2 linked regions of the Homo sapiens genome follow. The protein of the gene in region 2 binds, or shares a complex with, the protein of the main gene of each other region. Links are inferred from orthologs where the notes say so. Each region holds a gene or a part of one and is shown on either strand. Other genes may lie near its edges. The genes, in order: BMAL1 and CLOCK.

Region 1 (12,443 bases), on a different chromosome or scaffold from region 2:
AGAATTAGTTTACACTATTTAAAAGGACAGCACATACTAAGGTAAAAACCACTCTCCATTACATGCCAGTACTCAACGTTCCCCTGCAGCAAAGATGACTAAACCTTATCCAATCTTATCTCCCCCTGAGGTTAAGTCCCCAATTCAAACCCTCCTTCCATGCAGACCTAAGTACTTACGGCCATGTCCACTTATGGCCCTGTTGCACCCCCACCTCTATGCAGTGTGCATCCTGTTCCCTCCACCTGCTCCGTCCCTGAGTGCCCACCCCATCCCATCTCCTCCTCCACAAGATCAATGTGCATTGGACAACCATGGCCTAAAGGCTCCCTGTGCCTGTCATTTTGGAAAAAGCAAGATAAACTTCTCCCAGAATGCTCAGGCTGAGCGAGCAGGTGAGATATTTTCAGAGACAGCCCAACACAATATGGAATGCAGCAGAACCTAAGAGAATTGGAGAAAAATCAATGTGGACATTGCTGCCAGGTGTGGGGAGGAAGGAAAACAAAATGAAGAAATAGTGCTGCAGGACCAAGGCCCTGGGTCCTAAAAGCAGAGGAGGATTTGGACACGTGAAAATTGAGGGATGGACTGGGCCAAGGGCTGGTACAGGGAATGGACAGCCCCTCAGCTTGACTACAGTGTCCAGGCACATGGCAAGGTCTGGCAGACAGGCAGGCTGAATGTGGAGACCACTACAAACCAGGCCAAGGCACCCCGGCAAGGCAACGAAGAGCAGCAAGACTGACAGCAACATTCACTGAGTGTTTGCAATGTGCCATGAATAGACTGGCACACTTTTTCCAATGCTTTAACTCATTTAATCCACACCTCAACTCTCTGATGTAGGGGCTACTATGATCCCAGTTTTATAGATGAGGACACCAAGGCATAGAGAGCAAAAGAAAATTGACCACAAGTCACGAAGCCAGTAGGGAATACTTAGGATGTGAAATCTGGCTCCAGAGTCTGTATGCTAAACTACCCAACCAAACTGCCTTTTAGGACAGCCTGGGGAATGAAGGGATGTAGGCTCCAGTGTGTCATGAGGACTCAATGTGACAGTGCTTGCAAGCAGTCTGCAAACCTGTAACTCCGAGACCACAAATGCAGATTACAGGCTGCCATTCATGTCCACAACGGACCTGCTAGCAGAACACAGGAGAGACAGGTCAGGGCTAGAGAGGGGACCCCAGGCCACGGACAGTGTGAATAGCAGAAGCTAGGACAGACATTTATCTTTACAGGGGTGCAGGAAGAGAATCAAGAAACCAGCATGACCCAAAGGCTGAGAGAGGAAAGGATTTCAAAGGACAAAAAACAAGTGAGGTAAAAGCTTCAAAGGGGCTGAGCACAGTGACTCACGCCTGTAATCCCAGCACTTTGGGAGGCCAGTGCAGGTGGGTCACTTGAGCCCAGGAGTTTGAGACCAGCCTGGGCAACATGGCAAAACTCCATCTCTAATAAAAATACAAAAATGAGCCAGGTGTGATGGCACGTGTCTGTAGGCTCAGCTACTCTGGAGGCTGAGGCAGGAGGATTACCTGAGACTTGGGAGGCTGCAGTGAGCCACGATTGCACCACTGCACTCCAACCAGGCAAGACTGAGACCATGTTTAAAAAAATAAAAGAAATACTGCAAAGGGGCCAAGAACAACCACTCAGGAATAAGGATGGGCAGATGGGCCCCAGGAACTCACGACAAAGTTTTGGAGAAAACTTTGAGAAGAAATATAAAGAAAGGTGGTAGCGAGAGAAGCCAGAGGGCAGGTACTAAGAATGGAGCAGGAGATGGGAGAGTGGGGGAGGCTGGCAGGAGGGAGGAAAGAGAGGCTTACGAACCCAGGGTACCAAGTAAAGACACATGTAAATTGCCTGGTACACAGCAGGCTCACCACAAGTCTGACTCTGCCTCTTCCATCCTTCCTCTCCTAAGTCAAGCCTAAGGTTTTCAGGGTGGGGCAGGGGAGACTAAGGACAAACAGCACAAATAATATTCTAGTGATAGGACCCGGGTAGAGGTGAGAAGGAATGGCAGCTGGCACAAAGGAAAGGCTTCCTGTGTGCCAGGCCTTTTACATGCACCATCTCCCTTAATCCTCACACAGACTCCACGAGGCAGGCACTGCCATTACACCAAGAGGAGAAACCTGAGGTCAGAGGAGTCAAGCACACATCCAAGACCACAAAGCCCAAACCTGAGCCATGGATTCTTCTGCCACCAGAGCCCAGGCACTTGCCCATGGTGAGAGGCCAAGAAAAGGAACAGAGGAGAGGTCCACTTGCTTTCTCTGAATTGGGAGGAGATGAGGGGACGATGGGGATAGAGACAGGACATTTTGGGTGGGAAGTAAGAGATGCTGAGGGGGTTGAGTCAGAGCAGGTCTTATTTCATGAGAGGGAGAAGAAAAGACAAGGTGGGTATTTGGGATAAATCTGAGTCTTGTGATAAGGTGACAATGAAAAAAGACTGTGGAGAAGGATAACATGCCTGTGTCCCTAGCTCCCAACGAAACCTCAAGGTCTAGAAAGGATATTTTACTTCCCTGCAAGTACCTACTTTAGTTATCATGATGCTTCCTAAAATCACTGCATGTAATCACGGGGCTGAAACTGTTTATTTAATATTGATTTTCCTACCACAGTGAGAGTTGATGATGAAATCACAAAGAAAGCTCAGATACATTATAACCCTTACACCAAAGAGAGATATTAACTATCTAGTTTTTACCTTTTCATATGCAGTTTTGTTAATACAGCCAAATCTTTCTATGGTGCTTCTCCATCTTTTAGCATATAAATTCCACAGAGATTGTTGGTGTGAAGGGATAAATCTGAAAACATGGCCACTTCCTTTTCCTGCCCTGTGGCATGCAAACCTCTTCTGCAAATAGCAGACAAACTCGTAAGTAGTCATCATTTTATAAATCATTTGAAATGGATTCTTCAAAACACCATCTGTTGATCTGCTTAACTTTCTTATGAAAATAGGGCTTCAGCTCAGATATTCTGGAGGTGCCAGGAGGTAAATACCAACCTGAATTCAAATGTATTAAATATTTAGAGACTTACAGAACTTCAAAAGAGAGGAACCTTTGAGATCACCTAGTTCAACCGTCTTACTTTCCATCAGAGGCAAACACAACCTAGAAATCTTTAATAACTTGCCCCGACTGGAACGGCCATGAGAGCCCAAGCCTAAACTAGAACCAGGATGTCCAGCTCCTAACTCCCAGGTTAGTGCTTTTCTACCAGATCTGTTCGTTCTTCAGAGGGTTGAATAAAGAACAAATTTAACTACAGTTTTAACTTATTGTTATCATTCACTGGCTGCATCTACAATCAAAACCAAAATGCTTCTACAGAACCAGCTTCAGATGATACAGGCAATTTCAAATCCTGTCCAGGAAATTTCCAAACCTTCTAAATATGTTCTATAAGCTGCGTTAAAGACTTATCAGTAAAATGATCTGAGTAACAAAACATGGACTGAAAGACTGAATTTTGTATTTTCAAAAATATTTGGGAATTCCATTGATATGGAAATCAAATATAACACCAGCGAATTTTTTTAAGTCTTGCAAGCAGAGAGAGCATGATATTATTCAAAACTGCTCAGGAGCAGCAATGATTATTTTAAGCTCATGATTCAACGGGTACATTAATTAAAAACTCCACCAACCCAAATTCACAGATCCGGATATCAATGAGACCAGAAGAATTAAAATAATAGTTGTCATTTAATAATAGATTAAAGGGGTGAACAACAGCAGATGTCAGAAGGACAAATGACAAGCAAGCAGGTGTCGTGGGAAATGAATGCATCTAAGGGGCAGCTTTTATGGATGTTTAATAAAACGACGATGCTGGAAATACGGGTATACGGGTAGTGTCAAGAAAAGCTTGTTCACAAATACGGAATCTGATTTTTGGAAGCTGGGTGAGAAAACTTGGCTAATAATTCCTCGCTGAGGAGTAGCGGTGGAAGAAGGAAGAGACCGCAAGCGCCAAAGCGCCAAAACAACGCTAGGTGACCGGGAAGGGGCCGAGGCGGAGAGGGGAGAGGGGTCAGGAGGTGCGGGGTGCGCGGCGGCAGCGGGTCTCTCACCGGCCGGCGAGAACTTGACAGCAGGCGCCGGTGTCCAGCACTCCCCTTCCCTCCCCAGCTCCTGCCGGCGGGCACCTGAGCTCACCCCGCTGCCGGCTCTCGCGACCCCTCGGGGAGGCTAACATGCGCCCCACAAGGTCGACGTTCACCTCTACCTTCCTCGTCTTCTTCCAAGCAAACGGGAAGCTCTCTGGGATGTCAACGCCCGGCAATAGCCGAGCGGGAACCTTTTCTTCCCTGACATCTGTCAAACCCGGAGCTGGAGCCAGGCTCGCTGCGCCCTCCGCGGAGCTCTGGGACTCCAAGGCCGGCCCGCACCCGGGCTCCGGGCGACATCCCCAGGCCGACGCGCACCTGCCCGCAGACCCACGGGGCATCCTTGAGGGCCGCCCAGGACCTGGACGGCACAGGCCCCACGAAAGTTCGCAGGCTGGGGTCGGCCCCGTGCCGGCCGGGGATTCCCGGGTGCAGCGCCAGCCCTGGCTACAGGGCCGAAGGGGCGGGCGGACTTGGACTCCCCAAGCCCGACGGAGACGCCCTCCCCGCCCCCACCCAGCCTCGCGGGCTCCCGAAAGGGAAGTGAAGCGGGGAGGAAGGGCAGACGCGGCACCGTTCGCCCAACGCCCTTGAGGGGCAGCCACCAGGCATGGTCCCCTCGGGGATCCCCGAAGCTCCCGGGGACACATCTAGGAGTCCTCTTCGGCCGAGTCACTGCCCCCAAGGGCAGAGCTATCCCTTTAAGAGGCAGCTAGCTGCCCCCTCCCCCCGCCAGGTAGCGATGCCCGCGGAAGGGCGGTGGGTACTCCAGCGAACACTTTCCCGGCCCCTTTAAGGGCTCCTGCAGCACCTCTGCCTGCCCTAGCCCGCAGCGGCAGCCCCCGCGAGGAGGATGGGGGCGGACGGGCGCGGCGCCTTTAAGGGGCGCAGCCTCCCCACGGCCCGGGTGGGGGCAGGGAGCGGTCACGGGCCCTTTAAGGCCGGCAGCGGGCACGTCGGGCAGGGTTCTTCGGCGGCCGGGTTGCCCCCGGGGCGGCGGCAGGGGCGCAGCGCCCGCGAGGGTGCTAACGGCCCCCGACGGGGTGCGCGGGATCGCGTCGCTGGCCGCCGCCGGCCTGACACTCACCGTGGCTCGCCGGGAGCGCCCGCGCCCGCGCCCGCACTCGGATCCCGCGGCGGCGGCGGCGGTGAGTCCGGCGCGGGTAAACAGGCACCTCCGTCCCTGACCTACTTTCTGCCTTCCCTAAATGTCGCACCACTAACCTACTTTCCGACCAATCCGCTCCCCGCCGGCCCAGGCCCGGCCCCCCGCCCACCAATCGCTGTGCCCAACCCCCCTTCCCCGCCCACCAATGGAGGAGCCGCAGCGCCCGGATACCTGCCTCTTCCCGCCAGCCAATCCGAACGCCCGAAGGGAGCCGGTCCCGGCGGCCGCCCCCAGCCAATCCGCGCGCGGCTCGGCAGCCCGCTGGCCAGTTGTGTGGCGGCTAGAGAGGCCGCTGACCAATGGCGAGGCGGCGGGAGCCGGTTTACCTGCTACTTTCCTGCCACCAATCATTTGGCGCACAGGAGCGCACGCCCCGAGGAGAGGACCAATCCGCGCGCGCTCCCTGGGTTCCTCGCCCCTGCCCTCTCCCTTTCCCCTCAGGTCTCCCACTAGCCGCGGCCACTGCGGTGCCCAAGCCGCGCTCCTCGGGGTCGCCCGGGATGTCCCTCTTCTCTGGGTCCCCTGCCGGCTGGCGTTTGGCCGCCCGCCCTCACCCCTCCTCCTTCTTCTTCTCCCCTCCGGGCATTCCGACGAAAAGCAGCAGTTCCTGACTCCCTCTCTCCCTCCGGCTCCATCTAGGAAACCAATTTTAGGAACGTTGAGTGCCAGACCCTTCCTAAAATCCCTGGTTTGCCAAAGTCTCAACGAGAGAACGGATACTTAGTATTTCTAGAAGGCATTTCCACCCCGAGGACTGCAAGTGTTCTCACGTTCTTTGCGTTCATCATGACCTCCAAGTGTCCCACTGGAGCTGTCATTCCCGTAGTTCCAAAGAGAATACTCGAGCGCGGAGCGATTCCATTGCATTTCCTTCCAGTAGCCAGGTTTTGACCACTTACTGAAGAGTAGACACCAGCCCCGCGGCAGCGCTCTCTGCTGCAAAAAGCTGTCTACGGAGCAAGACGGAAGGAAACAGTTACAGAAAATAAAAATTTGATAACGACATGCGACTCGGTTGCTGAGAGGACAGAGAAAGTGACTTATTTTTGCATCTCAGGCACTTTGTAGAGGGCCTTTAGCACAAAGAACTCCCGGCTCTTCCAGATGTTAAACTCCCTGAATAGAAGGACAGCGTCTTCTTTTTCGTTATCCATCATGTCAGCTCTCCTTTAGCGCCTGCTGGGGTAGGGTGGAGTGGTGGGGGCGGGGCTGGCACCCAACAAGTGCACCATAAATATCTGTTGGCTGGATACATGAACAAATGGAATTAAATAAATTGGCCTAATTCTGTTACCCAGACTGGCCCCCGTGACTCTAGACTTCTAGCCTGGTAAGTTCCTTGAACACAGACACTGCGTTTTTTAATCTCTGTAACACCATTGCCCATCCCCAGCTCATTGACAGGCACGGAGTGCCCAATATGTGCTTGTGGTCTGAATGCTGACTGTTTTCGAGGTCAAGCAATTCCGTCGGTAGCTTGCTATTTTTCCGAAGTTTACACGCAGGTGGAATCTTATTGCTCCTTTGTCTCTGCCCCCATTTCATGAGGAGATCACTCTAGGTAAGTGGGACTTAAGCGAAGCACTTGACAAGATATCATAGACAAGATGAAGAAATATGGGCTGGATGCTAGTATCATTAATTGGACTAATAACTGGTTAAGTAACCATAACCTAAAGATGCTGATTGATGAGTCGACGTTGACCGAAAAGAAGATTGCAGGGAGTCAGCATTCCAGCAGCACCTACTACGTACCAGACACTGTGCTAAGTACTTTCCCCTCATGTTCTCCCTTAATCTTTATAACCACACTGTGAGGAAGCTTTTATTGCCCCATTTTACAGATGGGGAAACTGAAACTCAGAATTTAGCTAGCTGGCCAAAGGTCACACAGTAGGTGGCAGAGCCGTGATTCAAACTAGACTTTTTCTTTTTATTTCAAAGCCTCTATACCACACCAGTTACCCTCAGAATGACAGAAGCCTCTCTCCCAGGTCCAGACATCAGAACTTTTATCAGTGTTCTGAAGGAAAATCCAGAAGATTCGCATCACATGTCCAGATGACACAAAGCCAGGAGGGGAAGAGACGCTGTTACACAAACCACATACAATATTGGAGCAGTGGGCTGACTCTAACAGGGGTAAATGTGGAGTCCCACCCTGTGTGAAGCCAGCCGGAGGCAGAGGTGTCTTAGATGCTTACAGGAGCAAGATAAAGGGTCTTAGGTGACAAATAATCTGAGTCCACAGTGAATTGTGGCTGCCAAAATAAATAAACGCTCTTAGGCTGCATCAGTGGAAGTCTGACATGTAAAGCAAGATAGGTGTTATTGTGCTGCCCAGTGTTGGTCAGTACCCACATGAAGTATTGTCTGCAATTAAGACTTGGCAGAAAGAAATTATCTACATGCACAAGTAGAGGGACCAGGATGTAAAGAGGCTAGAAACTATGTCATATGAGGAAATATTAAAGGAAGCAGAAGGTTTTGCCCCAGGGGTACAAGGTAACTGTCTTGATATATGTGAAGAACTGTCAAATAGAAGAGAAATTAAACTTATACTTAAGGGCCTTAAGGGGTTGAAGGAGAACCTGTGGGTAGAAACTCTAGAATGAATCAATATGAACAATTTTCTAACAGCTAGAGCATCCTCTGCCTTGATTAATTGAGTTTCTTGTCACAAAAAATGTCCAAGTGAGAATTGGATTACCATGCAGTGGGAGGCGGGCTGAAATAGGTGTCTTTGTGGACTCCCTTCCTCTGAGATTCTCATCTTGTACCCTGGCTTTCCTCTTTTAAAGGTTATCACCCTGCCTTATCCTACCCTCAGTGGCCAAGCAACTGTCTTCCCTCATGTGCACCTGTTTTTCCCTGTGTAATTACACCTTTCTTTGTGGTTCTCTCTGTTGGAGATCCCAAACACCTCCTTCCACTACTACCTAACTTCCCTTTTCTTTTCTACTTTCCAGGATACTGAACTTTCAATTCATAGGGCACTGCTAAGGTCAAAATATTGTCCTCAATGTAAATTTTACTGGGCATGAGTAGAATCATGTGGATAAAAGGAAGATAAGAGAGAGCATTTATTTGCACCTACTGTGTACCAGATGCTTTAAATACATTATTTAATATAATCCTCACGTTAACCCTAGCAGTTGATATGCTTGCCCTCCACACTTGCTAGCTGGATGACTTTTATCAAATTGCTTAACCTCTTTGTACCTCAGTTTCCTCATCTGTAAAAGGGGGATAATCTAGTGTCTACTTCATAGGGCTGTTATAAGAGTTCAATGTGATGATAGATGGAAAGCCCTTAACACAGTGCCTGGCATACAGTCAAGATGTGATACATATTAGGTATCACTCTTAACAATTCTATGAAATAGATATTTCTTGCTCCTGTTTTACAGATGAAGTTAGTGAGGATAAAGTAGTATAATCTACAGTAGTTTCCCTGACTCTGATCCAATGATTGGATCCATTAGAATTACCTGGGGAGTTTTAAAAAATACAGACTTCAGAGTCCTGTTCTGGAAGATTCTGATTGCGTTTCTTTGGGATTTGACATTTGTGAATGGTTTGATCTGTTAACCAAGGTTGACATCTGGGTGTACAAAAAATGGGAATTAAAAAAAAAATCAGGCATTAATGAGTTAACCAGTGTTTATAGCTTTTTCAGCTGCTTTTGAAAAGACCTTCCTTGGCTCTTTTTTTAATGGGATGGCCATAGCAGCTCAGAATGGGAGAGCAGTAATACCTCATTTGGAATGTGTCCTAGACTGTGTAATTAGGCTTTAGACTAGATCTTGCTTGCAGACATGGCCAAGATTCCAAAGATCTTGGTGCTCAGATGTGAAAGGGGCTTTTCCGTTTGGCTAGAGGAAGCTAAAGCACCAGTGGCCACATGGCTTCTCAACAGAAGCTCTGAAGAACAGATAGACACTGTCTTCAAAAAACTGGCATCAATTTTGCCCAGCTTCACTGGGATGAGCAGACTAGAGTTCACTTTCTGGAGAATATAAAAGAAAGGAAGAATCCATTCTAGTTAGTATAGCAAAGTGAAGTGTTCAGGCAAGCCATTTCAGAAATGCATTAGCTCAAAAAAATTTACAATATGCTTTTGAAAAAGGAAAGAAGGGATAGACTGGGGAATTTGATCTCATACATTATCAAAGTGTACTATTAAACTATAGTAATAAAATAGTCTGGTATTGGTATAGAAACAGACCAATAGACGAATTAAAAGGCATAGCATCCAGAAATAGACCCAAAGTATAGGAAAATTGAGTTATAAAGTGAATTTTAAAGGATTGGGAAGAAGATGGATTTTTCAATAAATGCTATTGAAACAACTAGCTAGCCATAGGGAAACACATAAAATTTGCCCCCTACCCTGTACTTACATTAAAACATAAACCATAGGAAAAGAGAATTTAAGTGCATGTAGTCAAACCTATAAAAACACTAGAAAAAAATATGAGTAGAAGTTCTATAATCTTAAAAGGCCCATCTAAGCATAACACAAAATCCAGAGGCCATGAAAATAAAGGTGGATTTCATACATGCACACACACACACTCTCCATATAAACGAAATAAAGGAACAACTAGCATGCAGGCCCCACACCACATTATTAATGCACCATATACACATTCCAGTTAATAAGTCAGCAGCTGGCGTGGTGAGATGTAAGCAGTGATGTCATTTAACCTGTCATTGATAGAATTACTCCTTATAAAGAGCTACTCCTTGTAACATTGTCTTACTTCATTGGCCCTCTCTTTCTCGTTTGGTATTTTAAAAATAAAAGTTTATAATCACCAAGCACGATCTCCAGCATCAAAGGTTGTTTAGATCCTCTGCAGTGAGCTCTGGGTCCTTTGCTCCACTCATATAAAAGCTACAGACTCAGAATTTACCTAAGGAAAACTCTCATCCTGCATACAGATGTGTGTGCATTGTAAGAATGACTGCTACTCAAATCTCTCCTTTCTCTTTGGAAGAACAAGAACATCTATTGCTTTTTTTTTAGATTATGAAACCAATTTACATTTGTGATCAAAAATTTGGAAAGCACACACATAAAGAAGAAAATAAAAATAATCTATAATTCCATTAAGCGGATATAACCCACATTAAAATATCAATGTATTTTTTCTGTAACTATATCCTATTTTGACCTAATTTTTTTCTTTTTCAGAGACAGAGTCTTGCTATGCTGCCCAGGCTGGACTCGAACTTCTAGACTCGAGCAATTCTCATGCCTCAGCCTCCCAAGTGGCTGAGACTATAGGCATGCCACCACACCCAGCTCTTTTGATGTAATTTTTATCCCATCAAAGTTTTGTCATCTTGCTTTTAAAAAATTATCACATGCATTCTCTCTTGTTATTGAGCCTCCTTCTACAACTGGCTGTCTAATGGCTGCAGCATTTTTATTGTATGGAGAAACTATACCTCATGCAAAACTCTCTCATTGAAAGCGTTCACATAGTTCCTAATGTTTCTTTATTATACAGATGGCCCTGGGCTCACAGTGGTTTGAGTTACGATTTTTCTAGTTTATGATTGGCATATTGGGATATTAAATGTATTTTCAACTTTCAATATTTTTGACTTGCCATGGGTTTTTCGGGACATAACCCCATCGTAAGTTGAGGCTCATCTGTAAACAGTTTTGAAAAGAACATCCTTTGGGATTTTTAAACCTCAGGGCCCTCTGGAAGCTGTAGGCTAATGGGACTGGCCCACAGCTTTCCTACTCTACTTCATTACCACACTGGGTTTCAAAGAATCAGCTGGTATAGACAGGAAATACAACTTACATATTTTTTTCTTATAAGGTTTCAATGTTATCTCCTCCTGCTGCTGCTTCTCTCTCTGCCATAAAACTTATTTTAAAGACATGGAAAATTATATGCACTTGAGTTAAATACAAAACCACAAGTGACTATAGCTTGATAAGTGGTCTTTGGGAAATTTATGAGCCAAAATCTGTGTCATAAATTGATAGCACTCCAGCTAACAAAAGATTGACAATAAAACTTACTGTAAATAAAACCATCTAAATCTTGAGTATGAATAAAGTCCATTAGTTTGGGTTGTATTTTTATTATTGTTGTTTTTGACTCCTGTGCTGCATGTACATTTTCTTTTATTCATCTACTGCAAAATCATACATTTGCACATTTACCAGAGAAGGGCAAGAAAATATAATCAAGTGATATTACTTCTTAGACCTTGGAAGATTTGGATAGGTGAGAAAGGTGAAAGTCAACAGCCAAAAAAGAAAGAGAGAGAAAGAAAGAAAGAAGAGAGAGAGAGAAAGAAAGAAAAAGAAAGAAAGAAAGAAAGAAAAGAAGGAAAAGAAAGAAGGAAGGAGAAAGAAAGAGAAAGAAAGAAAGAAAGGAAAGAAAAAGAAAGATTGCACACTGATCCCCTCTGCCTGTAAATTTCCCTTACTTCCATTGCCTTTGACCCATGAATCTGGCTCACACTTGCTTCGCTGCTTAAAGGTCACTTCCTCAGGGAAACCTTCCCTGACCTCCCAGCTATAAAAATCTACCACAACAGCACCTTGTACTTCCTTTTTCAAAGCACTGTCACACTTGTAATTTCTTGTCTTCTCATAAACTCTGTGAGGCAGGTGCCACACCTGCATATTTCACTTCTATATCTCCCATAGCTATCAAAGCAGTAGCACATTCATGAGAACAAATATTGTCTGAACAAATTAATAAAAAATGATAAAGACATGCAAAAGTGAGCTGTACTTCTTGCATGGACACACGCAAGACATCACCTTCCAGAGATACACATAGGATTTAAGCACTGGCTTCAATTACCCCCTCATCAGAGAAAACCTCCCATCCCTTCTGAAATATTACAGCAGCCTCTGCATTTCACATTTTACCCTTCTTGAATTTTCTTTTCAACACATATCACTATCTGACATTTTGTTGTCTATTCATTTATTTATTGTATGCTTTCCCCCGTAAGGTCTGTGAGAGGAGGGTTATTTGTACTGCCATATCTCTCACATCTAGAATAGAATCCAGCAGGTAGTAGGTGTGCAATAAAAGTTCAATGAATGAATGAATGAATGAATCAATCAATCAATCAATCAATGAG
Region 2 (12,235 bases):
ACATGTCACAGCCAGATAGCCCTCACATTCAATTTTCCACTATTTGGGATGAGAATTAAAAATGTTAAGTACCTGAATGTGACCTCTTTGAAAAAGAAACTTAATCGTCGTCATTATTAATGTAAAAAATGAAAATGTTTCTGAAAAATGAAAAGCAAATTATATCCGAAACAGCATACTTTAAAAGACAAAGTAATTCATAAAATTTCATTTTTCACAAGTGATTTCTGTAGACTTCTAAGACTTAAAATTAACAGAATTACATCTCTGTGAAATATCCAACTAAAGTAATAACTCAGAGTTGAGGCTATAAGAGTAAGTTTAAATAATTCAACATTTGCATAATCAAAAAAATGGAAAAAAACAGGAATCTCGGTATCCACCTGTTTCACAGAAGTTACACCTAATAGGGCTTTTAATAAATGGTTGTAAAGCAACCTGTAAATATAAATGCCATTATGTAATTATAGTCAATTAGTAACAATTATATTGCTCTGACACTTGAGTGTTCTATAAATAATTCATACAACTCCATCTAGAATTTTTGATCCAGAAAAGGAGAAAATGCAACAGCCATTGGTGTAATGCCTACAAGGAACTTAAAAAATATTTTACTTTATGCATCTGTAAAAAACTATAAGGAAACAGATAAACATCAAAAGGTTTAGCTACAGTGCAGAACTTTGACTTTTCCCCCACAATATTGTTTTATTAAAATAGTCACAGTAAATAAATGCTTTATTTGACACAGCACTAGAAGTAAAAATGTGTGGAAGAGGTGACATAATATATATGCTTCAAGATTGAGATAAGAGGAAACAATTTTCTTTTAATATTAACACTGGCTGACATATTTGATGGTAGACAACAGTTAACTGATAGGATTTAATTTCCTAATTTTTCTAGCAATCCTGAAATGATTAAAGAGGCTGTATTATAATTATCAAATAAAACATCAAATGGTTCTTTCCAGCGGGAAAGCTTAAAAAAAACTACTGAAATAGCTATCAGTCTCACAGATGCCTGCTAAAAGAACATAACAACTCCTTACGTTATCAAGAGCTAAGATCTAAGTTTCCTTTCTTAACTAATTAAAAGGTTAAGATACGTATTCTCCCTCAAAATCCCATGCCTCTCCCCCCACCAAAAAAAAAAAAAACAGCCAGAAATAGGCTCATCCTTACAAATGTTGTATGTAATTTTCTTATAAAATCTATCATTTTCCACCTTGTGTTATAATGTCTATGCTTTTCAGTTGGGCATGGTGGCTCATGCCTGTAATCCCAGCACTTTGGGAGGCCGAGGTGGGCGGATCACCTGAGGTCAGCAGTTTGAGACCAGCCCGGCCAACATGGAGAAACACCGTTGTCTACTAAAAATACAAAAATTAGCCGGGTGTGGTGGCAGATACCTGTAATCCCAGCTACTCTTGGAGGGCTAAGGCAGGAGAATCGCTTGAACCAAGGAGGCGGAGGTTGCAGTGAGCTGAGATCACGCCACTGCACTCCAGCCCGGGTGACAGAGAGAGACTCTGTCTCAAATAATAATAATAATAATAATAATAATAATAATAATATTATTATTATTATTATTATTAATGTCTATGCTGTTTTAACCATACTAGATTTCAAAACCACTGAAGGCAGGGTCAATTATACTGCATCTTTCTAGGTATCTCCCATAGTAAATAGTCTTGATCAATACTCTGAACTTTTTGCAAACTCCATCAGCTAAAAAGAATTAAGGTTTGGTAATTCTTTGTAACCTGGTTTAAAACAAACCCTCTGGAACTATTAGAGAACCAGAGGGATGGATGGAGGAGAGGGTAGTGCATATTAGTTGTTTGTTGTCAGTTAAGCAAAAGCCAAACCAAAGAGCCTCTTCTCTCCTTTTCCCTTCAAAAGCTAAATTTTATCCAAGTCAGTATCAGTGTCCCTTAGTTAAGGACAGTCTGCTTAGGTTCACTTCAGAGGAGCTCAAGAGGCTGGTGTAATCTACGAGGCTTTCGTAGGAGTCTGCAAGCAAGTACAGAAGGAAAAAAAATCAAAGTTTAACCCATACACTATCGATCAAGTCAAAAGCCAAAGAAAACCCTAAAACTTGGACTCTAAAGAGTCCTATAAAATTCATGGAATCCAAGCACCTTTTGGGTTTGTTTTGTTTAAAACAGGGTGTCACTCTGTCACCAAGGCTGAACTCCTGGGTTCAAGTGATCCCTCCACCTCAGCCTCCCAATTAGCTGAAACTACGGTGTGCACCACCCCATCTGGCTAATTTTTTTTAAAAAAATTTTGTAGCAAAGAGGTCTCACTATGTTGCCCAGGCTGGTCCTGAAATCCTGGGCTCAAGCCATTCTCCCACCTCGGCCGCTCGAAGTTTACAGTGAATTAAATCTATACCAGATAAAACTCACATCAGTATGACCTCCCTTCAAACTCTGCAAATGCCTCCATAACAATTGGCCCCTCACTAGTGAAAAGATGAGTATGACCTATGGTCTATATCAGATGTTAAGCTTTCTGACAGGCTCCAAGTCATGTCCCTGTCCTGTAGGTAATAACAGAGCCCATACTGGAGGCAAAATGGCAAAGCAGATGATCATTCAAGATGATTCCGTTTTCAAGGCTGAAAAGAACATATTTGCAAATGCACAGAAAAAGATCTACAAGATCATACAGTGGTGTTAACAGTGTTACCCTTCAGTCAAGGGTATACGAGTAGCTGTGCTCCCTAGATTCCTCTGGGGAGGAATGTGAGCTAGAAGTGGATGTAAAGGGGTTGTCACTTATTATATATACACTGTATTAACTTTTTATGAGCATCAATTTACTTCTGTAATTTTAAAAATAAGAGTCCCAGCTACTCGGGAGGCTGAGGCAGGAGAATCTCTTGAACCTGGGAGCCGGAGGTTGCAGTGAGCCAAGATCGTGCCACTGCACTCCGGCCTGGTGACAGAGCAAGACTCCGTCTCCAAAAAAAAAAAAAATTGAAATGTAATTCCATTTTTAAAAAAGATTGAACGGACCCACATGGAATTCAAATGAAAAATAAGTGACACTTTGCAGAAGTCTATTAGAAAAACCTACATATCAAACAGAAATAATATAAGTATCCTATCCTACAAAATAAAAAGGAATACTGGTAATATTACAAAAATGCCCACAGCAACTGCAATCCATTACTCACTATTCACTACTTTCATTACACAATATTAGTCACCAGGGGGAGTTTGAGGGTCCCCTCCCAAAATTATATCTCATCTAACAGCTGCCTGTGCAGTCTTAACCTCATTAAACAGGTTTTCAACAATCCAGTCCTAAAAAAATGTTCATTTTGTACACTTTCATGAGAAACAACCAGACACACACACACACACACACACACACACACACACCCCAATTTACCTTTCACTGGGGTTCATGTTTGATTTCCTCAAAAGAAAGAAAAGTTTCCCAACCTGAAAAGCAAACTAACCTAGACAATCAAGTTTACTAGCACTTTAAGGGAATGTTCACATCCTCCTCATAATTGTTTGTCATGAAACTTTGGGGTTAAGTAAAATTTTACCCATCTATGACTCCTGAAAAAAAGAGGAGGGGGAAACACAAACTACACTCTGAAAGCAGCATAATCCAGCCATAATGCCAAATGTAAACAGTCATATATTTTAGCAAGGCAAGATATAACTAAACATCTTTAAAAGATAAATGCCTGTGACCTCTGCAATCTTAAAAATTAAAGTGTAAATAGTCATAAAAGGTATCCCAAACTTCCTTTTTAGTTGATTTTCCTAAAAAATATGAAAAGCAATCATATTGAAAATGACTCAAATCACCATAAATTAGGCAACAAAAATCACACAAATTATTTGGGGGAGGAGGATTTTTGTTTAATCCAGTTTATGAGTCCATAATACACACAAAAATTTGAAAACATGAAGACATACACATAATACATCTCATTTCCCACCATTCCCTCAGACTATTTCTCCCTCTCCTCTATTGTTAGTTTTCTAAATCCTCCCATAATTTCTTTATATAAAGAGCAAACATAAACTTGTATTATTACACCTCGCCCTTAAGATGTAACACACTATTCACAAAGTACCGCTACACCTTGCTTTTTTCACTTCATAGCAAATTTTTGCAATCTTTGCATGTTAGTACGTAGAAAGCTTCCTTATTCTTTTTTCATAACTGATTACGCCTAGCTTTAGAACATTTTCAGTCTGCTTTCTTCAGGCTAACTTTTTTTTTTTTTACTTTTTTTATTATTATACTTTAAGTTCTAGGGTACATGTGCACAACGTGCAGGTTTGTCACATATGTATAAATGTGCCACGCTGGTGTGCTGCACCCATTAACTCGTCGTTTACATTAGGTATTTCTCCTAATGCTACAGGCTAACCTTTCAAGACATTCTGTTCAGCCAACCACTTATCACAGGAATTAATTTCCTTCCCCCAAGCTTTGAAAACCAATCAGATTTGAGGTGTCCCAAGGGATAAGTTTCAGAGAAAGCAATTCATTATCTAAATTACATCCTTTTAAGAATGTTTATTTTCAAACAGGTAGAGGGGAATATTGCACAATTTTCTCTAATCGCTTAAAGCTACAAATCAGAACGCAATCTTCAAAGTGAAATTACCTTTGATTTGGGGGGATCAGCGTTATAGTCAAATCAACGACTGTAAAAGTTTACTTCTTGTGCTTTTCTTCCACTGTAAAAATTTTTTTATTTTTTAAAGAAGGCTAAAAAGCCTTAAAGTCTAATAGCACGGCATTCTAATAGCAGGAAACCACAATCTGATTTGATCTTTCATCTGCCAGGTCAGAGACTAGGCTTTTATCTTGCAGAATTAGGCTCACCTACCATCAACAAGAGGACCTCTACAAAGCTACAAACACTTTCAAAGAATATAAACTCTGCGGCGCTGCGTGTAGGAAATTACACTCCAGGGGCCAGAGCGCCAGAGCCAACTCCAGAAAACCCAGCTTCACTGGCGGAAAGAAATCTACAAACGCCAGCGGCGGTGACGGGGAACGGGAAGCGCGGGTGGACGGAAGAAGAGAAACCGAGCGCCTCGCCGCCAACCCTCGAACCCGCGCGCGGTCGCTGGAGTCAGACGCTAATAGCCGCGCGCTGCCTAGGAACGGAACCCCGGAACCACCACCACTAACGGAACCAGCCCGCGGCCGGCAACGGCGGCCGTTCGGACTGCGGACTGCGGCACGCGGGCCGGGCGCCGGGAGGGCGGGGGTTCCCCGGAGGAGCTGGCCGCCCCGGCGCCCCATTGGGCGCTGCTCCAAACGTGCCCGAGTGGTGACAGGAATAAAGTGGGTCACAAGGCCTAGCGGGTCCCCAGCGAAAGCTCTCTCGGCACCCGGTCCCCGTCTTTCCCCGCCTCCCAGCTGCTGGAATCGGCCGCAGCTCCGGGCGCCCTCAAGCCGCCCGGCCCCGCCGTGCACCCCACTCCCGCCCCTGCCCCGCAGGTAACCCCAGCTGCCCCAGAGGGCCTCTCAGGCAGGGCGGGCCTCGGCCCGAAGTCCCGGGAAAAGACACACTAGAACGACACGCCAAACTTGGGCTTCAGCTCCCGCCTTCCCCACCCTTGGCCGCCGCCCCCCGGCCCCACACACGCCGCCCCCCGCTCCCTCCCCTTCCCCGCGCCCTCACCGTGTGGCTTGCGGCGGCTCCGGCTTCTTCCCTCCCCCACCCAGGTCTCCCGCTGCGGTGACTCGGAACCACTACCCCGCCTGTGTCCAGGAGGCGCCGCGGCTCCCACCTCCAGCAGCACCTGGGGCTGTGAGTGGCGCCCCCCACCCACCCCCCCAAAAATTCGCCGCTCCTGTGGCCAGCTCCTCCTCCCCCTCCCTTCCCTTCCCCTCCTCCACCAGCCCAGGAGCGCGCATGCGCCGCCAAGGAAGCCAACCGGCACTCGGCAGGCCCTGGGCCCACCGGGCGGGCGCCTCTCACCGGGAGCGCTCGCGGCGGCGGCGGCCAGATTTCCTTCGCGCTCTCGCTCTCCGGGGTTTCCTTTTTTAAACCGGCAGCCGCAAGCCGAGTCCGTGATTGCGCCCCCTCCCGGCGCATGCGTCGTCAGCGACCCCGCGGGCTCAGACGGCCGGCGGAGGCTCTGCGCTCGCCCCTCCCCTCACTCTCCCTTTCCCCAGCGCGGCTCGGTGCGCATGCGACTTGCCCCGTTAGGCAGCACGGAGCCGCGCCAGGGGATCCCGGACGCCCGAAGAGACTCCCGCGCCCCTTGGGCCGAAATCTGGCTCTGCAGGCGCACCGTTCCCTGCCCCGGCCGGGAACGGCGCCGGTTACTAGAAAGCCGGGGAGGCGGGGCCTGGTCGGGTGGAGGGCGCGGCCGGCCGGCAGAGCGCTAGCCTTAGGTCCTGGAGGCTCTTTGGCTTTCCCCCCGTATGCCGGGGGCTAGGAGGAGGAAGAAGAGCTTCCTGCCGGATGAGGGATCCAGAGGCCAGAAAAGGAACCCGCTCTCCCTTCCAAAGCAAAACACTGCCGACGCCAGCTTAGATTTTTCGGGTGTTGGCAGGAGACTTTTTCCCCCAGTGGCATCATTCGTGTTTCCTCTCCTGGTGCTGGGAGAGAAGAGTTGCAAAGGCGCCTGGACCGCCAGTAACATCTTCTCCCATCTCCTGAGGGAGCGCGGCTTGGGTTGCTTCTTCTTGGTGGGTGGGCCTGGGGAGACAGGGCATGCGCCCTCGGCCAGAGGAGGGAAGCGAAAGGAGGTCGGGATTTATTTGCTCATTTGGAGATTTTTCCCTTGCCCTTTTATTAAAAATCAAGTGACAGTGTAATGGAAGATGGAGAATGAAGCATCAGAAATAAACCAGGACCCTAATTTGCATGGATTTCCTCGTTGGAACAACGTGTGACTACTACTTATCTTCGGGAAATTACTTATCTTGATGCGTTAAGGCACATTTGGTCCACATGAGAAAGCACATTTCAGTGCTTCTACTGGAAAAGAGATCTTTACAGTCTTAATTCCTAGTAATTCCTATGTTTTAATGAATATCTTTTGGATTTGAAATAAAAGCCATCTTTTTCTTTCAAAAAATGCACTTTTCTGGCCGTAAAATCCTCCCTTTAAAGTAACAGTCACCTCAGTAAACATTTTCAATTCTTGCTGTATGCTCTGGGCAAAAGAACATCAAACTGAAGCACTTATTCAGATCCTTGATCCTGCACCTAAGGATTTTTCTTTCAGGAGTGGGAAAACATGATTTGTTAATTTACCCCATCATATAGCAGAAGATATTTTGGTCGACATTTTTGCCTGTTCAGCATTCATTCCCTATTCTGATAATTTCTTTTGAAGAACTATCATTTATCCACTCTCAGTCCATATGGTCTGAGCAGGACACAAGGGGAAGGCATATTTGAGTTTAATCCTCGGTTGCAAACTACGGTTCCTAAGAAGGGTGTTACGTCTTTACCAATGGGTTTAAATCTGGGAGAATGGAGACCTGGAGCCATCTTTCCACACGTGAATTCTGAGAAAGAAGGCAACACGGAAAAAAAGCAGATTTGAAGACAGGTTTGGCCTAAAGACATGTTTGAGGCCTGGAAACAAATGTAGATTAGATTCCTCTGGAAATTTCGTTAAACCAGTCAGTAAATTCTTGCATCTGTTTTATTGCTTAAACCAGTGAGAGGTTTTCTTTCACATGTAATCAAGAGTCCCGACTGACAAGAGGTAGGTAGCAAGACGGAGGCAAAGTTATTAATACTGATAAGGTAGGTTGCAGCCAGACAAGAGAGGGCTTGAATGCTTTCCCTAGGATGGATTTTTGAATTTTATTCTAGAGACACTGATCCCTCCTTATATTCCCCATCATCTAGAACATATTATCTTCAAAATACCTTTGCCCTTTTTAATGATTTCATTGTCCTCTCAGTCACCAAGATCAAACCATGTCCATCTTTGACTCCTCCCTCTTTCACTGTATTTAATTATTTACCAAGACCTGTTGATAATCCCCCGTTTTTCTGCTCAGTCCTCTCTCACTGCTTGAACATTTCCCATGGTTCAGTTCACAGCTTCTCCTTTCTCCCACATTCTCTCCAAGAAAAGAAAAAATGTACTGGATATGTCTTTTTTTTGAGACAGATTTTTTGAGACAGAGTCTTGCTCTGTTGCCCAGCTGGAGTACAGTGGCATGATCTCAGCTCACTGAAACCTCTGCCTCCCGGGTTCAAGCAATTCTTGTGCCTCAGCCTTCCAAGTAGCTGTGATTACAGACTCCCACCACCACACCAGCTAATTTTTGTATTTTTAGTAGAGATGGGGTTCCACCATGTTGGCCAGGCTGGTCTTGAACTCCTGGCCTCAAGTGATCCACCCACCTCAGCCACCCAAAGTGCTGGGATTAACAGGCGCGAGCCACTGTACCCAGCCTGTATTGGATATTTCCAATAGCTTTTCCAACTTCCAGATCCCACATTTCCATAAAACAAAAATCCTGCCTCATAATTTCATAGCTCCTAAATTTATATTCCATAGCCTTAAACATAATTTCAGATATTCTGTTCACCCTTTCTTGTGAACCTTGCTATCATTTAAACTGAGTATTTCCAACTCCTCTGTCAACTGATTTCCCCCAGTTGGTAGGCAACGTATCATAGTGGTTAAGAGTACAAAATTAGGATCTTAACTGCCTGGATTTAAATCATAGCTTCACCACTAATATTCTGCATGACTTTAAGCAAGTTATTTCTCTGTTCTTTAATTTCGTCATCTTTAAAATGGGATAATTACAATCCTATCTCATAGCTTAACCGAGACAGTGTGTGTGTCTGTGTGTGTGTAATTTTATCTGGTACATAAGAAATCCCATAGAAATGTTGGCTATTCTTGTCAATGATGTTCCTTTTTGGGTAATTTTCATGTCTCTTTTGCTCTAATTCTTGCCCTAACTCCTATGTCCCATCAGTCACAAAGTCATATCTGTTCTTTCATAGTAACTCATCCATTCATTGACATTCCTAGTTTTACTACCATACTTTAAGGTGAATTGGAGAACAGGAAGCTTTAAGATATGCTTAATAGAGAATATAAGGTTAAGTATTTTTTTAAAGCTTGCATAGTTTATTCAGTTACTCATATTCTTTCTAATCCCTTTAAAATGGAACTACAAAACCCTGCCTCATAGTTGAGGTAGTATTATAGACTTTGTGGTCAAAACTCTTGGCTTAAATTCTGACTCATGCTGAGAGATAGTGAGCAAATCAAGTAATTCCTCTGAGCTTCAGGTACTTATCTGTAAAGTTACAAGACTAGGCATTTCAGAGAACTGTGATGATCAAAGGTAAATTAAACTGCTACATAAAGGCTAGGTGGTGACGATGGTGGTTGTAAATCTTTACAATTTCTTGTTGGAACCCTAAGAATAGTTGAAATGACTCACAGATTTTTAACTCCAGCCTTCACTTCTCCCTTGGGCTCTATACACACGTCTGTTTATCTACCTGATGTCTCTTCTTCTGTATCACAAATATCTTGGATGCTTCTTTCAATCTATTCTCCACAGAGCAGTCAAATTATTTTGAAAATATAAGTGAAGTCACATTATTTTCTTCTAAAACCCCTTTTGTCATTTCCCATTACATACAAATTCCTAATTATGGTCACAATAACCTGTTTGATCTGGCCCCTCCCTACCTCTCCAACCTCATGTCTTACCATTTTTTTCCTTTTCCTGTGACACTCCAACCCAGAAACTGCCTTTCATTTCTTTGCTAATTTATCTCTGCTCTCAGGCTTTCATGCATGCTGTGCCCTTGCCTGGACCCCTCCTACCTTTTCTCATGGCTGGCTCCTTCTCAACCATCACATCTCAAAGATCTAACTACCCTATTTAAGTAGGTCTCCCTCCAACACCCCACCTGCCCCCCCACCACCAATAATATCCAAAGTTATTCTCTTCTGTTGTGTCCAGTTTCCCCCATAATACTTAAGTTTAAATTATGTATATATTAGTTATATGTATATATGATATTTGTTTTCTTATTAACTATTTTCCCTACCACCACAAGATAAACTCCAGAAGGGCGAGAACCATGTGTTTTCTTTGCCACTATACGTGTAGCATCCATTTCAATACCTCAGGTGAGCTGGGTAGAGTGACACGTACATGTAGTTCCAGCTGAGCCGGGAGGATTGCTTGAGCCCAGGAGTTAAGGAACAGCCTGGGCAATGTAGCAAGACCCCATCACTAAAATAAATTAATTAAAATTTAAAAATAAAAACCAGGTTGGGTGTGGTACCTCAAGTCTGTAATCCCAGCACTTTGGGAGGCCAAGGCAGGCAGATCACTTGAGGTCAGGAGTTTGAGACCAGCCTGGCCAACATGGTGAAACCCTGTCTCTACTAAAAAATACAAAAAAATTCGCCAGGTGTGGTGGTGCATGTCTATAGTCTGAGGCTTAGGCAGGAAAATCACTTGAACCTGGGAGGCAGTATCTGCAGTGAGCCCAGTTCGTGCTGCTGCACTCCAGCCTGGGTGACAGAGCAAGAGTCAGTCGAGGCAGGATAATCACTTGAACCTGGGAGGCAGAGGCTGCAGTAAGCCCAGATCGTGCTGCTGCACTCCACCCTGGGTGACAGAGCAAGTCTGTCTCAAACAAACAAAACCACCAATGCCTGAGGTGAATGAATGATTTAATGAGTGAATGAAATGCCAGAAAGATGATTTTTAGAATCATCTTTGTCCCAAATTATGACTGTAGGCAGATTATTGTCAAGGGGTAGCCTTAGTAATGTGCATGAAAGTGTGTCCGGAATTTATTCCTTCCGGTGGGTTCCTGGTCTCACTGACTTCAAGAATGAAACCATGGACCCTTGCAGTGAGTGTTACAGCTCTTAAAGATGGTGTGTCTGGAGTTTGTTCCTTCAGATGTTCAGATGTGTCCAGAATTTCTTCCTTCCAGTGGGTTTGTGGTCTTGCTGACTTCAGGAGTGAAGCCGCAGACTTTTACAGTGAGTGTTACAGCTCTTAAAGGTGGTGTGTCCGCAGTTTGTTCCTCCTGGTGGGTTCATGGTCTCGCTCACTTCAGGAATGAAGCTGCAGACCCCCACAGTGAGTGTTACAGCTCATAAAGGTAGTGTGGACCCAAACAGTGAGCAGCAGCAAGAGTTATTGTTAAGAGTGAAAGAACAAACCTTCCGCAGTGTAGAAGGGGGGGCCGAGCAGGTTGCTGCTGCTGGATTGGGTGCCAGCTTTTATTCCCTTATTTGGCCCCGCCCACATCCTGCTGATTGGTCCATTTTACAGAGCACTGATTGGTCCATTTTACAGAATGCTGATTGGTCCATTTTACAGAGTGCTGATGGTGCGTTTACAATCCTTTAGACACAGAGTGCTTTAGACATAGAGTGCTGATTGGTGTGTTTACAATCCTTCTTAGCTAGACACAGAATGCTGATTGGTGCGTTTTTACAGAGTGCTGACTGGTGCATTTACAATCCTTTAGCTAGACACAGAGCGCTGATTAGTGCATTTACAATCCTTTAGCTAGACACAAAAATTCTCCAAGTCCCCACCCAACCCAGAAGCCCAGCTGGCTTCACCTCTCAAAAGTACAAAAGAGAAGCAAACTAAAATCAGTCAGTGAAATATGATGTGACTAATACCGTTCTAGTGATTGAATACTTGAGAACCAGCAAGAATATGTAACACTAATAGATACAGCTAATACTTGTAAAAAAGATGCTGACTGAAATCTAAAATAGGGTACAAGTGCATGAAGTACCTCAACTTCTAAACAGCTGCCAACATTTGGGGTCAGATACCCACTCCTTCACCCAAGGATAAAAGTTGGACAAAAAGGGATCTACCATAGCCAAAACCTCCAACTCTCTACCCTCAGACCACATAAGTTCAACACTTGGCAAGAGGAAAAACACCTGACAGAATCACTGAAGCCAGGTTCCTGGGGTGTACTATGGTTTTTCCTTTCCTTTTTATGCCTCACCCTATCCCAAGTGAACAAGACTCCAACAGAATCAGCTAGGTGACTATGAGGGAGGGAGAGTGGCATCTCATTCACTATCAAACTTGCTGATATTGCCTTGTACCTACATGAAACAGGAAAAGAGTTGGAGAAATAGCTGGCCAGGGAGTGGGCTGAAATAAAGCAATCTGCAACATCTACCATGTGGTATAGCAAGGATACCGAGGATGTGTAAGTTTCTCATGGGTCAATCGAT

The links.
Region 1: the proteins of CLOCK (region 2) and BMAL1 are in contact, whole or in part, in a crystal structure (PDB 4F3L), measured with the Mus musculus proteins. The link is inferred for Homo sapiens from one-to-one orthologs. Residues at the interface, in NP_001276755.1 of Mus musculus: Arg46, Gln49, Phe50, Leu53, Ile54, Glu56, Leu57, Met60, Leu61, Pro62, Lys70, Ser71, Leu74, Gln75, Ser77, Ile78, Phe80, Leu81, Arg82, His84, Lys85, Thr88, Glu95, Ile96, Gln98, Asp99, Trp100, Pro102, Phe104, Leu105; in XP_030097882.1 of Mus musculus: Lys70, Met71, Phe74, Ile75, Glu77, Leu78, Ser80, Leu81, Val82, Asp93, Leu95, Leu98, Arg99, Ala101, Val102, His104, Met105, Lys106, Leu108, Arg109, Gly110, Ala118, Tyr120, Lys121, Pro122, Phe124, Leu125, Asp127, Asp128, Glu129.

What each region holds. Positions count from the first base shown.
Region 1 is NC_000011.10:13,270,712-13,283,154, reverse strand, and holds the start of BMAL1 (basic helix-loop-helix ARNT-like protein 1), read right to left. Parts: upstream 5,366-12,443; 5' UTR 5,232-5,365; intron 1-5,231. UniProt on the Homo sapiens protein: Transcriptional activator which forms a core component of the circadian clock.
Region 2 is NC_000004.12:55,540,806-55,553,040, forward strand, and holds the start of CLOCK (circadian locomoter output cycles protein kaput), read right to left. Parts: upstream 6,105-12,235; 5' UTR 5,977-6,104; intron 5,812-5,976; exon of another isoform or gene 4,648-5,811; intron 1-4,647. UniProt on the Homo sapiens protein: Transcriptional activator which forms a core component of the circadian clock.